Linked DNA regions of Homo sapiens. The protein of the gene in region 1 purifies or fractionates together with the protein of each later gene. This does not show direct contact. Each region holds a gene or a part of one and is shown on either strand. Other genes may lie near its edges. The genes, in order: TAFA1 and SEZ6L2.

What was found.
Region 2: the proteins of TAFA1 (region 1) and SEZ6L2 purify together in Homo sapiens (affinity purification with mass spectrometry; one large-scale study listed by BioGRID and IntAct). This does not show direct contact.

What each region holds. Positions count from the first base shown.
Region 1 is NC_000003.12:68,535,561-68,539,379, reverse strand, and holds part of TAFA1 (chemokine-like protein TAFA-1 isoform 1 precursor), read right to left. Parts: intron 625-3,819; coding exon 500-624; intron 1-499.
Region 2 is NC_000016.10:29,892,770-29,896,588, reverse strand, and holds part of SEZ6L2 (seizure 6-like protein 2 isoform 5 precursor), read left to right. Parts: intron 1-728; coding exon 729-868; intron 869-1,128; coding exon 1,129-1,330; intron 1,331-3,819. UniProt on the Homo sapiens protein: May contribute to specialized endoplasmic reticulum functions in neurons.

The DNA.
Region 1 (3,819 bases):
ACTCCTGATTTAACCAAAGAAATCAAAGAATGATGTATTCACTCCCCAAAACCCTTTTCAGTTCTCTGACGGATCATCACAGAACTCTTTTAAAGAACATTAGAAAATGGCTTCTGTAGGTGTACTTAAACGCAGACCCTTTCAGCAAACCATCTGGATGAATTAGGGAGGAAGTTCATTTGATTATCATTCTGAGCATTATAAATGTTGGATGAATTATCCGAATAATTACCTCATGATTCCTCTCCACTCTGGCTGGAAACCCAACTTAATTTATGAGTCTGTGACAGAAACACTAAACTGCTCAGTGTGGGAAAGTCAAGTTCAATCTCTAACGTCTCATTCACGGATGGACACTGATCTGCATAGTTCAGAATGCTTTCTGTCAGTGGAGAATCTTCTCTCCTGTGCAAAGCTTCTGTGGATGCTGTTTGCACAGCACAAACTCAAATAGTACAGTCTGTAACATCCAAAATACATTTGAAATAAGTGCACTTACTCTCGTGGTCTTAATTTTGTTGCCTGTTGCGCACATCCATCCAGAATTGTCAGGGAGTGTCTTACATTCTTCTCCTTCTAGGCAAGGCTCCATCTCACACCACCATTTCCCAATCACTATGGAGGCTGTGCAGAAACAGGAAACAACTGTGTTTGCAATTCATCCAAACAACCTGAACACTGACGTTGTGTCCCTCTGCAGATTTTCACGTTCTTGGAAGCACACTAAGTTCTCTTTAATCCTCCATGACTAGCTAAGAAAGCTCTATTAAAAAAATAAGATTTTAATTTATATGCCTTATAATGCAAATATAATTATGTGGACTGGTTTCATCAAGCAGCATTTTTGTTGGGGATTGAGACTGCCTTTTCAAAATTATGACAGTAAGAGAAACCTAACATAGCTGACTCCATCTTGCTTCTAACATCCAAGCTATCTTTGGTCATTCCTGGGCATAGGCTAAGCTAACTTTGGGAGGAATTTAGTTTAAACTTAAAGCAAGGATAATAATAACCCTTCCCAAAAGTAAACTGCCTTTGTAAAACTAATGAAAGGCCACAAAGTTAGGACTATGAGAGGGGGCTGAATTCTCTTAAGATATAGAAGTAGTTAAATGATAATCAGCTACTGTTCTGGAGGCTGCGAGATTTGTAACTTTTCCAATTATTCCTGTAGATAATATCACTATTGTAGAACTGAAAATTGACTGAGATTTTTTCAGACTTTTGCATTCTAGCAACTGACTCCACTGAGACCCACACACTCAGGACCCAACCAGTCCTGTGGCCCCCACCTGGAGGCTGACTTAGCACATGAGAACTGTTTGCCACACCTCTATCATTTCAACCCCAATCAACATTCCCCATTCCCTAGCCCCCTGCCCACCAAACTACCCTTGAAAAATCCTAACCTCGAAGACTTCAGGGAGCCTAATTTGAGTGATAACTCCAGGTTTCCCACGTGACCAGCCTTGAGTTAATTAAACTCTTTCTTTACTGCAATATCATGGTCTCAGTGAATTAGTTTTTGTCTGTACAGTGGACAGGAAGAACCCACAGGCAATTAAAACAATCTTTTTGTTTTTATGCCAAATGCATATGGAAGAGGAAGACTTATGAAGGAAATAAAAATATTTTACTCCAAAATATGCTTCTTTGACATAGTGTGAGACGGCTGTTCAGAGAGTCAGCAAACAGAAGTAGTCCAGCAAAGTTTTCTTTCATGGGGGAGATTTGTATCTATAAAGAAAATCTGCACTGATACAACCAGGCTTTCTCTGAAGCCCCCATTGTCCAGTCTAGGAAAAATTAACTGAGAGTCTGACACTTTTAAAGGCCTAAAAGAAATATTTACCAGCTATTTTCTCTGAGGGCTGCTACCTGTGAGACCAACGTTGCTAGCCAGGCCTCCTTTTCTCTCCCTTCCCTAACCTGTCTTGCCATATAACCTGATTTACCATCATAACCTGTTTTGGGCCATGCACTGAGTCCCCATTCTTTATGAAGTTTCAAGATAGTATGTAAGTTTTTATATGCCATTAGGGGGTTAGTGTAATCACTGTGATTCTCCCTCATGTACACATTAATAAATTTGTATGCCTTTTCTTTTATTAACCTGCCTTTTGCCCATTGATTTTTCATCAAAATTTCAGAAGATGAAGGAGTTTTTCTTTGCCCCCTACACTTAATTTTTGGGTCTTCAGGAACTTTCGTGCTCTTAGCTTTTGTAGAGCACAGATCTTGCACTATTTCTATTCAATGAAGGGGACAAATGCCTCAATACTCTTCAGAATGACTGAGGCATTCTTCTCAGAAAGGCAAATTTATCCACCAAGCATTAGGGTTTATCGCCTAGCCTAGGGCCTTGAAGAATTTCAAAGGCCTGGCATAGAAAAAATGAATTGACTGAAAGTACAAAAGAAAAGTTGCAAAATAAAAGTCAAGAGTAATATTAGATAAAAATATATCCTTACCATCAAGAGTATAGTTGATATGAGTTGTGGTTACCTTTTAATATGTTTAATATGATGTGGGGGGAACTATCAAAAGTTGAGCCTCTGATAAAGCAGCCCTAATTTTCAGGGGAATATCAAGGATGACCACAATAGGAAGCTGGCAATGAATTTAGTGTATGTACTAAATATTTACAGCACACATTTTCTGATAACAAAATTTTATAAAACCAGTGACTAGATTCACTCAATGCAAATCAAGAAACTCTATATTTCCCTTAATGCCTTAATTGAAAAATGATTTCTACACAAGCACCAGTCATTTCTGTAGCTCCTCCCTGTGTTAGCTCTTCCCAAATCCACCTGGGCATTTCCCATTCAGAATCCTCAAAATGTCAGCCAGGTGTTTGTCTTACGATGCTTTCTGGTTGGCTGTTTTTACACGGGACGAGAACCCTCGTTCTTTACTCACTCCCCTCCATCCCCCATGTTCCAAAGATGCTCTCCACCATGATCTTTAAGTCTCACAACACAAAGAAGCCAAATGACATATGATAATGTCACAGAGGATTAACATTAAAACGGGATGGAGTAGACCCTGAAGCAAAGCAGGAGCACATTAAAATTCTCTCTCTATCCAGTATTCACTAGAGGGATGAGATTGCTGACTTAAAAGCAGAATGGTTTAACCATCCAGACATCTCTCTGCCCTTAGGCTTTCCTTCTATGCTTTTCTTACTTCAGTCTTCCCCTTCTTTAGAATTCAGTGTTCCTCAATCTTTACTTTGAATAAAATTATTATGTAGTGAGGAAAGAAAAGAACTTTTATGTGAGGAATGTGAGCCTTTTCAAATTATTAGGCCCAGGGAGGTGTAAAATGAGATAGCAATCACACCCTGCTTCCTCTGTTTTGAGACACACATTCATCTAAGGAGATGGCTTGCAATTGCCACAAATAGCTATGCATTAACCTAATAATGCCTCAGTGGACACCATATCCCATGCCCTATAGCTTAACAATGGATAGCCAATCACTAATGAATGTTATTTCTGTAAACCAATGAGAGTTCCTAACAAAAACTTTCCCCCATCCCCATTTTTCCCCCTTTAAAAACCTGCTTTTAACTATGGCCAGTAGAGCTCATATCCAAGATTACTATGGTCTGAGTCTTCCAGGCAGCTATCCTTATTTTGGTTCAAATAAACTCTTCAAGTTACATTTTGTGCTTCAGGCTCTTCCCTTTAGGTCGACAGTAGGATTCTATATGCAAAGTCATGTCTACTCTATTATATTGTCAATTTAAGAAACTTCTCAAGGGTAATTTTGCCATATTTAATTTTTGCCTTATATGTGGACCAGACCAAAGTA
Region 2 (3,819 bases), on another chromosome or scaffold:
CTTAAAGATAGTGATGGACATGGTGGCTCTAGCCTGTAATCCCAGCACTTTGGGAGGCCAGGCGGGCAGATCACCTGAGGTCGGGAGTTCGAGACCAGCCTGAGCAACATGGAGAAACCCTGTCTCTACTAAAAATACAAAATTAGCCAGGCGTGGTGGCGCATGCCTGTAATCCCAGCTACTCAGAAGGCTGAGGCAGGAGAATTGCTTGAACCCGGGAGGTGGAGGTTGTGGTGAGCTGAGATCCAGCCATTGCACTCTAGCCTAGGCAACAAGAGCAAAACTCCATCTTAAAAAAATAAAAATAAAAAAATAAAAGATGGTGAGGGGGGCACAGCAGCGCACAGCTGTAATCCCAGTGATTTGGGAGGCCAAGGCAGGAGGATCGCTTGAGGCCAGGAGTTTGAGTCCAGCCTGGGAAATGTGGCAAGACCCCATTTCTACAAAAAGTTTTAAAAATTGTCTCACCATGGTGATGTGCACCTGTGGGCCCAGCTACTCGGGAGGCTGAGGAGGGAGGATCACTTGAGCCCAGGAATTTGAGACTGCAGTGAGCCATGATTGCACCACTGCACTCCAGCCTGGGTGACAGAGCGAGACCCTGTCTCAAACAAAACAAAAAGATGATGAGAAGTGCTAAGGAGAAGGGAGATGAAGGCCAGAGTTGCTTGGCTGGGAGGGCAAAAGCACAGGCATTCCTTCCATCCCAGCCATTTGTATCTCCTCAGTTCTGTGTAATAACAACATCTCCGAGGGCGAAGGGTATGTGGAGTCTCCAGATCTGGGGAGCCCCGTCAGCCGCACCCTGGGGCTCCTGGACTGCACTTACAGCATCCATGTCTACCCTGGCTACGGCATTGAGATCCAGGTAACTGGACCAAAGCATGTGACTGTGCAGCTTCCAAGCCTTTTCCTCTGGGCTGTGGGTGTGCACGGGTTTGGCCTGGGAGCCAAAGAACCTGTCTGATGACTCAGGTGACCTCAAAAACTCTTCTAGATTTCTACAACTTGGGCAGCAGCGTGGTGCCTTTTGGGCTGCTACACACAGGGCAAAGGCACAGGACAGGGGCTTTGGAAGTCAAACACCTGGCTGACTTGCCCTGGCGGGTCTGTGTCTGGCTTCTCTAGGTGCAGACGCTGAACCTGTCACAGGAAGAGGAGCTCCTGGTGCTGGCTGGTGGGGGATCCCCAGGCCTGGCCCCCCGACTCCTGGCCAACTCATCCATGCTTGGAGAAGGACAAGTCCTTCGGAGCCCAACCAACCGGCTGCTTCTGCACTTCCAGAGCCCACGGGTCCCAAGGGGCGGTGGCTTCAGGATCCACTATCAGGGTGAGGAGTTTGAGGGTGCTGCTGGAAGGGCAGGGGCCATACTGCATACACTGGACATCTTTTTTTTTTTTTTTTTTTTTGAGACAGAGTCTTGCTCTGTCGCCCAGACTGGAGGTCAGTGGCGTGATCTCAGCTCACTGCAAGCTCTGCCTCCCAGGTTCACGCCATTCTCCTGCCTCAGCCTCTCAAGTAGCTGGGACTACAGACGCCCGCCACCATGCCCAGCTAATTTTTTGTATTTTTAGTAGAGATGGGATTTCACCGCGTTAGCCAGGATGGTCTCGATCTCCTGACTTTGTGATCCACCTGCCTCAGCCTCCCAAAGTGCTGGGATTACAGGCAAGAGCCACTGTGCCCGGCCTATAGAGGGGACATCTTTAAGAACCATCGAAGCACAGGGTGCCGAAGGGGGCTTTTCCTCCTGACTGCGACCCTGGGGGGCAGGGCCCTCAGAGGAGACCCATGCATACTTATCTCACACACTCACAGATCTGTGCACACATCCGAGGGACAATTCATCCATTGAATCCAACAAATGTTTATCAAGTGCTTGCTTCATACCAGGCCCTGTGTTAGCCTTGAAGGAGGAATGAACAAACCAGGTGTAAATCTGGCTTCAACGAGCTCAGAATCTAGGTAGGAAGACAGATGAGTAATCAGGATGGTTATAATTCAAGGAGATAAGGAATATGATGGCAGAAACACCAGCGGGGGCAGCACATAGCCAAGGGACCTAAATTTCTCCCAAGGAATATGGGGACATCTTCTTGGAGGAGATGATGACTAAGCTGAGACCTGAAGGATAAATTCGCCAGGGAAAGGGTGGGAGGGAGGGAGAGAAGGAGGGAGGCAGATGGCTAAGTGGATGAAAAAGCACACTCCAAGACCCAGAGAGAGAAGACGTGACCCCCAGATGAGGTGAAGGAATTCAGCATGGAAGATAGAATTGTCCTAGCTGTGTGACCTGGGACAAGTTACTTAACTTTTCTGTGCCTCATGATCTCATCTGAAAAATAGGGATCACAATACTTAGTATTATGGGGAAGATCAAATGAATTAATACATGTCAAGTGTTTAAAACAGTGTGTGGCCTGGCGTGGTGGCTCACGCCTATAATCTCAGCACTTTGGGAGGCCAAGGCTGGTGGATCACCTGAGGTCAGGAGTTCAAGACCTGCCTGGCCAACATGGTGAAACCCCATCTCTACTAAAATTACAAAAATTAGCCAGGCATGGTGGCAAGCACCTGTAATCCCAGTTACTTGGGAGGCTGAGGCAAGAGAATTGTTTGAACCCAGGAGGCGGAGGTTGCATTGAGCTGAGATTGCGCCATTGTACTCCAGGCTAGGTGACAAAAGTGAAACTCTGTCTCAAAAACAAACAAACAAAAACACAAACAGCGTGTGGTACACAGTGAGAGCTCAAAACTGTCAGTCACTGCTATTACTTTCAAAGCACAGAAGCGGGTGAAGGGGAAATGGGCCAGAGACCAGGCTGGGAGGCAGGTCAGATTCAGACCATAAAGAGCCTTATCTGCTTCAGTAAGCAGTCCAGACTACTTCAACCTGCAGGTGTGACAGGCAGATATTTGAATTTTTTTTTTTTTTTTTTTGAGACAGAGTCTCACTTTGTTGCCCAGGCTGGAGTGCAGTGGTGATGACCTCAGCTCACTGCAACCTCTGCCTCCTAGCTTCAGATGATTCTCCTGTCTCAGCCTCCCCAGTATCTGGGATTACAGGCACCTGCCACTACGCCTGGCTAATTTTTGTATTTTTAGTAGAGATGGGGTTTCACCATGTTGGCCAGGCTGGTCTCGAACTCCTGACCTCAAGTGATCCACCCGCCTTGGCCTCCCAAAGTGCTGGGATTACAGGCATGAGCCACCACGCCAGGCCTCCTAATTTGAATTTTATTTATTTATTTATTTATTTATTTGAGATGGAGTTTTGCTCTTGTTGGCCAGGCTGGAATGCAATGGCGCAATCTTGGCTCACCGCAGCCTCTGCCTCCCGGGTTCAAGCGATTCTCCTGCCTCAGCCTCCTGAGTAGCTGGGATTACAAGCATGCCCCACCACTCCCGGCTAACTTTGTATTTTTAGTAGAGACGGGGTTTCTCCATGTTGGTCAGGCTGGTCTCGAACTCCCGACCTCAGGAAATCCTCCTGCCTTGACCTCCCAAAGTGCTGAGATTACAGGCGTGAGCCATGGTGCCTGGCCTGAAATGTTTTAAGCAGGAAAGTGAAAGCCTCAGATTTGCAATTTAAAGATCCTTCTGACTTCTGGGGGCAGGAAAGGGGGGCTGTATTCACGCACGACTGCATTTGTTAGGACCTATGACAGATGACCTGCACATGTGTGTACATCCATGCTTACCTGTGTGTGCGGGAACCTTCCCACAGTACAAGGGTGTGTTCTAGCAGACATGTGTGCATGAGGAAAGGGGCCCAGCCAGTGCCCTGTTCCAGACCCCACTGTCTTCCTATGCTTCAT